Linked DNA regions of Homo sapiens. The protein of the gene in region 2 purifies or fractionates together with the protein of the main gene of each other region. This does not show direct contact. Each region holds a gene or a part of one and is shown on either strand. Other genes may lie near its edges. The genes, in order: SNX4 and PIP5K1C.

Region 1 (3,812 bases), on a different chromosome or scaffold from region 2:
AAAAGAAAAATTTTAAAATTAGCTAGGTATGGTGGCACGCGCCTGTAGTCTCAGCTACTTGGGAGGCTGAGGCAGGCGGATCGCTTGAGTCCAGGAGTTCAAGGCTGCAGTGAGCCATGATCACACCACTGCACTCTGGCCTGGGTGACAGAGCAAGACTCTGTCTCAAAATCATAAAAACTCCAAAATATTTATAAATTAGAATCAGTTTATGACAGAACTGGTTTATCATATTTTCTCTGCAGAAAAAAATTTTCCTCCTTCTAGTCTGTTTTGTGCCAAATTTCAAATATCTATGGGCCAATGCATGGGAAGTGTTTTTTAAATTACTGTAAAAAAATTTTCTTCTTCTTGTCTAGACATATTATATTGAACTTTTGGTACTGTATTATCATGTGAGTCATTGAACAATTTATATTATGTTATATATCAATTTATATTCTGTTAGTCTACTTACCTATTCAGTTTACACCAGAGATGAAAACTTTAAAAAGTTTGTAATAACCTTTGTTGTATTTCTTTTAGGGAAGAAATAAACAGCAGCATAGAACTCAAGTGTCCAGCTTACCACTACTAATGCTCCTTGATTTTCAGATCATCATCTCATTCCCAAACACTAATTCTAATGACTAAATTTAAAAAGCTGTTACAAAAACTAAATAATCCTGTACCACTAACAGATAAAACTTAGAACTATTTAAAAATGACTCCTTTGTCCCCATTTCAAACTGACCACCATGTCTCAACAGACAGAAGAAGCATGACTAAGGGCTTATCTTTTAGACTGCTAAGGTTGGACTCTTTCATATGTGATAGAGTGAGCAACTGTCGGGGGCAGGGATACGAATGGAAACAGGACAGAAGAAAAAAAGAGGCAAGGTATAATACTAGTACACTGGGGAAAATCTACAACTTGTATTTAAATTACTGCTTCATTACTATAAACACTAACTAAAAAAAAAAAAAAAAAATTCACTGTTACAAAATGTTCTTTCCCTGTAGAATAAATTTGCCCATTATAGTCTCATAAGTAACTAAAATTACACAAATCAAAAGTGAATTGTAGTGTTTCTTTGAAAACCTTACCAATGATATTTATTGTAAGACGATTTCCAACATTCATTTATTCAATAAATACCAAGTTCCCAATGAGTGCATGGCACCATGCTGGGAACTGTAAAGGAACATGGCAAATTTCATATAAATATTCTTACCTTCAGCTGAAACCCAGTTTCATTCACAGTCTCCTTCCAGTTACCTTCCTAAAAATTGAAGTTAATTTTAGAAATCATTATTGCAAAGCAAATATTCCAAATTAAGTAAATTAAATTTCTATCATTCTGTTCTTACTTCAGCAGGAATTGGAGAGAGAAGTTTAAAAAAATTTCTTTTCACTTCAAAATTAAACATTCAATCCAACTTCTAAAAGATTACCAAAGGTGAACCCAAGATTTTATAGATCTGGGCTTCAAAATACTGAAGACAAATTTTAATATTATTTAAATGATACCAAAAATACCATCATCAGTATCTTTAAATAGAAAAAGTTAACCAAAAGAATGACATAATCCATTAATTAGAAATTCATAACAAAAAATAAATTGCATATAAATTAATGAAAAGATCCTTAAAATAAGTATTCTACAATTTTTTTAAGAAACCCAAATTAAATGAATATTTTACTAAGACTAAATAAAAGAAAAATACCTGTGTTAAAAACAGATAGAAGATTTTGTCTCTACAAAGGATGGGATGTGAAGCAATCCTCAAGAGAAAGTTTTCTAAACCAATCCGTCGCCTCTCCACAAAATCTGGATCCATGTTGTCAGCAGAGAGTTTATGCCAAACAAATTCTGCCTAGGTAAACAAAATAATCATTAAGAATAGTCTCAATGCTGAATACTTCTAAACTACTGCCATTTCACTTCTTACCCGTTTTTCTGGCAGAGGTGGCACAACAATATGTGGATAGTAAACTAAAAGGTAGCTTCTCAACAACTCAAATTCACTATATCGCCGCCATAGTGAGTCTGTTAGGACACTCTGACCATCGGTATGTTCAACTGACCTGAAAAGGAACAGAACAACACTTGTTATTTTTTATAAACAAAAATACATACACATAAATACAATCACCTTTAAAATTATAACTACAGAATGATTATGAACCAGGCACTAAGTAAAGAACTTTTCATACATTTTTCTTTTTTTTCAAGACAGGGTCCCACTGTCGCTCAGGTTGGAGTGCAGTGGTGCAATCACCACTTACTGCAGCCTTCGCCTCCTGGGCTCAGGCAATCCTCCCACCTCAGCCTCCTGAGTAGCTGGGACCACAGGCACATGTCACCACATTGGCTAATACTTTAATTTTTTGTAAAGATGGGGTCCAGCTATGTTGCCCAGGCTGGTGTCAAACTCCTGGGCTTAAGCCATCCTCCTGCCTTGGCCTCATGTATTTTCATATTTAATCCTTATGACAACCCTGTGAGGCAGAGATTTATTATCCTCATTTTACAGATGAGGACACAGCTGCACAGTATATGCTCTGCCTATGATCACAAAGGTCTGTGGATAAAGCACTCAGATCCATCTGATTTCAAAGCCCTTACTCCTAACCACTTTCTTTCTGTTACAGAAAGCCTGTTTAAACATAAGAGAAACAGTTTTATTAGGAACACTCTAAAAGCCTTAATGCATAAATAATTGATTTTATAATATGATAAAATCTAGTTTAGCTAGTGTTTCATTAAATAAAAAGCATTTTTAACTTCACTTCTGCCAAAATGAGAGAATAACATTCACAACAAAGACCAAGACACCACAAAAACTTCAATTTAGGTTATTAATAAATCAGATTAATCCAAGTACCAAGAAATATCCAAAAGAACAAAATATTAGTTAGCTCTGAAAGAGTGGCGAAGAGGGGTCATAAAAATTCATCTCCAGTCTTACTTTTAATTATAAAGGGCTGGTAGGCAATGCCATGTCTCATACATACAAAAGTTCAATTTACTTTTGGCAGAAAGTTAAGGTAAAATCATATAAAGGATATTTTAAATATTTTGACTACTTAGGATTTCTTGCCAGCATAAGTAAGACCTATTAGGAAGCACCAGTCTTCTAAACATTATCAGGACCTTGCTATTTTCTAATTTGCTTGACAATAACCTGTTTGCCCTCCATGAAATGCACAAGGTGTATTTGTACATTAGGACAAAAAGTCACAGAACTTAAATCAGTCTCCAAATAGTCTAGAGAAAGTATTTACATCATGCCATGCTCAGCACAATAGATGCTCATTTTTATCATTTTTTAAGTTTGCTACTAAATTTATTCATTGCATATTAATAAAAATGAACCAAAATATGAAATGCAAAATTCACAAATGGCTCCCATGGCAAAAAAATAGAATTATTAAATCATAATTCATTTTAAAGAGTATACCTAGACATTAGTTATAACTAATACTATCCCAATTACAATGCCCAACTTCAGCTGAAAAATACTTGGGTTAATCTCAAGTTTCAAATTATTCAAAATCACTACCAACAAAACCCAAAACTTGTAAATAAGTGGATAAATAAAGCCTATAAGCAGTACACCTACAGGGCTGATAGAAGGTCTGCATAAGTGTTTAAAAAAAAAAAAAAAAAAAAACGCGGTTGGATGCGGTGGCTCACGCCTGTAATCCCAGCACTTTGGGAGGTCAAGGTGGGTGGATCAGGAGTTTGAGACCAGCCTGGCGAACATGGTGAAACCCCGTCTCTACTAAAAATACAAAAAATTATCTGGGCGTGGTGGCAGGTGCCTGT
Region 2 (4,377 bases):
GAAGGAGTCAGTGGGTTCTGGGCCAGTTCTGAAGGTGAAGCTGCCATCATTTGCTGCCAGATCAGCCGTGGAAGTGGGGCAGGGGCAGGGATGCAGCTGACCTTTCCAGGGCATCACAGAGACAGATCAGCCGTGGGAGTGGGGCAGGGGCAGGGATGGAGCTGACCGTTCTGGGGCATCACAGAGACAGGACAGCCTGGGAGAGGCTCAGACACGCCCAGGCCACAGCTCAGACCAAACTCCACCACAGGCCATCGGCCCACACAGTGGGCACAGCCGCATCCCAAGCCCCGGCCTTCCCGAGACCGCCCCCACGTGCCCCACGGCCACGGCCCATGGAGACGCCATTCAGGCCACGCCTCGGGAGCCAGGAGCCCAGGCAATTAGAGGAACCAAATTCTAAACACCAACGAGACATTGCTTTGCCTCCCATCGGATCAGCCGAAATCGCCAAGGACGATGACACTGGGAGCTGGCAGTGCCGTGGGAAACGGGCAGCCTCCCTCGGCCCCTGTCGGACAAGGCTCCCGCTGTAGCTGAGCTTTCTGGAAGGTGTCGCCATCGCTTCTAACAGTGAGCGGTGACTCCAGAAACCACGGGCATGGGCCTCAGCAGGGGCCTGGAGGCACCGATGGTGGAGAGGCCGGAAAGGGGTGGCCAACCGGCACGACAATCACCAAGCACGAGCGCCAACTCATCCCAGGCTCAGCCCCTAGCACACACGGTCATCACCCCACTTCACAGACGGGACGCTGAAGCCCGGGGAAGTGACGGCCACACAGCACCTGAAGCGCGGAGCTGGGAGGGGGACATCGGCGGGACCAACTCTGGGGCTCCCCCTTAACCACTGCCTGGCGCTCGCCCTCTCTACAAACCGATACCAACATAGGGTGGGGAGACTCCAGATGACCAGAGATAAAAAGCAAGCAGTTCACAGAGTCATAAACGTGTGGCATTTCTCACCAGGGCCGTCCTGCCCCCAGGGGACACTGAACGGTGTCTGGGTCACTTGTGGCTGTCACAACTGGCAGGTGCTCCTGGCATGGAGTGGGCAGAAGCCAGGGGCGTTGCTCAGCACCCCTAATTTCCTGACTCAAAATACCTCTGCCAAGGCACAGAAGCCCCAGTGAGGCATGAAACCATCTCGGTGAAGAACAAGCAGGCCCCTTTATGTGCTCACGTCTCTGTGGCCCAGCCAGGCACAACCTAAACTCACCAGCGCTAACATCAGGAGGGATGGCGTTGGAGGAGTGAGGCAACTCTGAATTTTAAACATTCAGAAGCAGTATATGGCCAGCTGGGGTCAGATTTCTGTGGATTTCAGGGATGGGCAGAGATGCCAGACCCTGACCTTCCAGCCCTCCCCGGCCCCCCACCCCCACCCCCCCACTCCCCCGCTCTCCCACCCCACCACCATGCTCAGTCTGGAGCTGGCAACTTTATCTGTCCCCGGTGCTCCCAGAGCCCCTGATAAGATGAATGGTCGCGGTGTGGTTTTCTTTTGGTCAGCGAGTCCTGGGCTACTTTGTCTCTGACCAGCTGGGGTCAGAGGGCTGACAGCGGAAGTTGGGGGGCCCAAGAAAGGAACCCGGGCTGGGGCCTGGTGCCCTGCCTGGGTTCCTCCACCATGTCTCTTGCTGGCCAGGCCAGGACACCGGCTGCCCGCAAAGAAAGGGGCGAGGCCACTGGCTCTGGGGAAGGAACCGGGTCACCTACCAAGCGGTTCCAGATGGCCGCCGGGAGGGAAGCCACGAGTGTCTTTCAAGGCGGGGGGTGGGGGGGGGACTTGATGACTTCCACACTCTCTCTCTCTCCAGACATCTCCCCAACTCCCAGGCAGCACGCATCGCCCGCCCGCCCGCTTGCCCGCCTGCCAACCAAGGAAGCTTCGGGAGGCCTGGGGGGAGAAGGAGGACGGATGCCCGTGTGGGTGTCTACAGAGACGCTGCTGCTGGCTGCCTGGGAGGAGCAGAGGATTTTGTGAATCCGGAAACTTCCGATTTGGGAGCTTGTGACCTCGACTGAGAAGGAACTGTTCCCTTCCTCTGGGCTCTGCACACCGTCCCCACAGAAGGGAAGGCCCAGCTGCCGCCACCTACCCGGCTGGAGGTCCAGGAAGCAGCTAAAGGGGGCATGAGACAGCCGTGCCCCCCGCCCAGCCCGCAGCCCCACCAGTGTGTCCTGGGGGAAGGCTCGGGGAGAGGAAAAGGGGGCGACAGGGCACCCTGTGTGCACAGCCGGGGCGGTGGAGGCATCTTGAGATGTAACCCTTTTCCTCCCCTCATTTTAGCAGGGAGGTAAACTGAGGCCCAGGAAGGTGAGGAAAGGTCGCGCACCCGGACTCAGGTCTGGGGACTTACAGAAAGGGAGGTGACATCAGGAGGTGGGCACGCACGGCCTCAGAGACCCCCGCCTCCACCCAAGCAGCCGCCACTCACACGACGGGCAGCCCCTGGGAGCGGGTCAGGCAGAACGGGGATCCCCAGCGGCGCCCACGCCGAGTCGCCCCCGGCCCGGGAGCGGTGGGAGGTAGCCCCTCGCAGGCCTCCCGCTTCCCGGCGCGGCTTCAGCCCCGTCCTCCCCGCGGCTCCAGGGGACTGCCCCGCCCCAGGCTCCTGGAACCGGCGGCGCCCCCGCAGCGACCGTGCAGCCCCCGCCCCGGCCCCGCAGCCCCGCGACTCTCGGCGCTCGGACGAGCCCAGCGGGCCGCAGCCCCGGGAGGCCGGGCCGTTACCTGCCGCCGCCCCGCTCTCTGCCGCCCACGCCGCCTCCGAGGGCACGGCCCCCGCCTCAGCGCTCTCCGCCTCGTCCGGTACCTCCAGCTCCATGGCCGCGCGCGGACGGCGGCGGGGGCGCCCGAGGGGGACCCGAGCTGCGACCGCCGCCGCCGAACAACAAGCGCCGCCGGCCAAGGGAGGGCGCGCCGGGCCGGCGCGGGGCGGACGGGGCGGGGCCTGCGTGCGTGCGACGCCGCGGACGGCGCGCGGCCAATCGGGGCTCGGGGGCGGGGCCTGCTTGCGACCCGCAGCCAGGAGCGCCTCGAGTGCCCCCTCGCGCCCAGGGGTGGGAGTACAGAGCCAGGCTCGCCATTCCATCGTATTAGGTCAGTAAGATTGACAGGCACGATACGTATCAATAACATTGCTGTGCACAACACATACCAATAACATGGATCTACACAACACATGACAATAATATGGATCTATACAGCACGTGCCAATAATATGGATGTACACAGCACATGCCAATAACATGGATCTAAACAGCACATGCCAATAACAGGGACCTGCACAGCGCATGACAATAACATGGATCTGGCCGGGCGCGGTGACTCACGCCTATATTCCCGGCACTTTGGGAGGCCGAAGAGGGCGGATCACCTGAGGTCAGGAGTTCAAGACCATCCTGACCAACATGGTGAAATCCTGTCTCTACTAAAAATACAAAAAATAGCTGGGCGTGGTGGCACATGCCTGTAATCGCGGCTACTCGGGAGGCTGAGGCAGGAGAATCGCTGGAACCCAGGAGGGAGAGGTTGCAGTGAGCTGAGATCGCACCATTGCCCTCCAGCCTGGGCCACAGAGTGAGACTCTGTCCCAAAAAAAACCACACATGGACCTACACAGCACATGCCAATAACATGGAGTTACCCAATGCATGCCAATAACATGGATATACACAATACATGCCAATAACACGGATATGCACAATACATGCCAATAACATGGATATACACAATACATGCCAATAACATGAATCTATACTATATCATTGACATGGATCTACATAAAACATACAAATAGCATTGCTATATGCAATACATGCCAATCACATTGCTATACACAATGAATACCAATAACATTGATCTACACAATACATGTAACTAACATTGATACACACACTACATGTCAATAACATTGATATACACACTACATGCCAATAACATGGATATACACACTACATGCCAATAACATTGATATACACACTACATGCCAATAACATTAATGTACACACTACATGTCAATAACATTGATATACACACTACATGTCAATAACATTGATATGCACAAAATATACCAATAACAGTGATATACACAGTACATGTAAATAATATTGATCTACACAGGGCCGGGCGCGGTGGCTCATGCCTGTAATCCCAAGACTTTGGGAGGCCGAGGCGGGCGGATCACGAGGTCAGGAGATTGAGACCATCCTGGTTAACATGGTGAAACCCCGTCTCTACTAAAAATACAAAAAATTAGCCAGGCGTGGTGGCGGGCGCCTGTAGTCCCAGCTACTTGGGAGGCTAAGGCAGGAGAATAGGGTGAACCTGGGAGGCAGAGCTTGCAGTGAGCTGAGATCGTGTCACTGCACTCC

What was found.
Region 1: the proteins of PIP5K1C (region 2) and SNX4 purify together in Homo sapiens (affinity purification with mass spectrometry; one large-scale study listed by BioGRID and IntAct). This does not show direct contact.

Annotation. Positions count from the first base shown.
Region 1 is NC_000003.12:125,496,127-125,499,938, forward strand, and holds part of SNX4 (sorting nexin-4), read right to left. Parts: intron 2,069-3,812; coding exon 1,933-2,068; intron 1,858-1,932; coding exon 1,708-1,857; intron 1,263-1,707; coding exon 1,215-1,262; intron 1-1,214. UniProt on the Homo sapiens protein: Involved in the regulation of endocytosis and in several stages of intracellular trafficking. Plays a role in recycling endocytosed transferrin receptor and prevent its degradation.
Region 2 is NC_000019.10:3,697,563-3,701,939, forward strand, and holds the start of PIP5K1C (phosphatidylinositol 4-phosphate 5-kinase type-1 gamma), read right to left. Parts: upstream 2,907-4,377; 5' UTR 2,829-2,906; coding exon 2,735-2,828; intron 1-2,734. UniProt on the Homo sapiens protein: Catalyzes the phosphorylation of phosphatidylinositol 4-phosphate (PtdIns(4)P/PI4P) to form phosphatidylinositol 4,5-bisphosphate (PtdIns(4,5)P2/PIP2), a lipid second messenger that regulates several cellular processes such as signal transduction, vesicle trafficking, actin cytoskeleton dynamics, cell adhesion, and cell motility.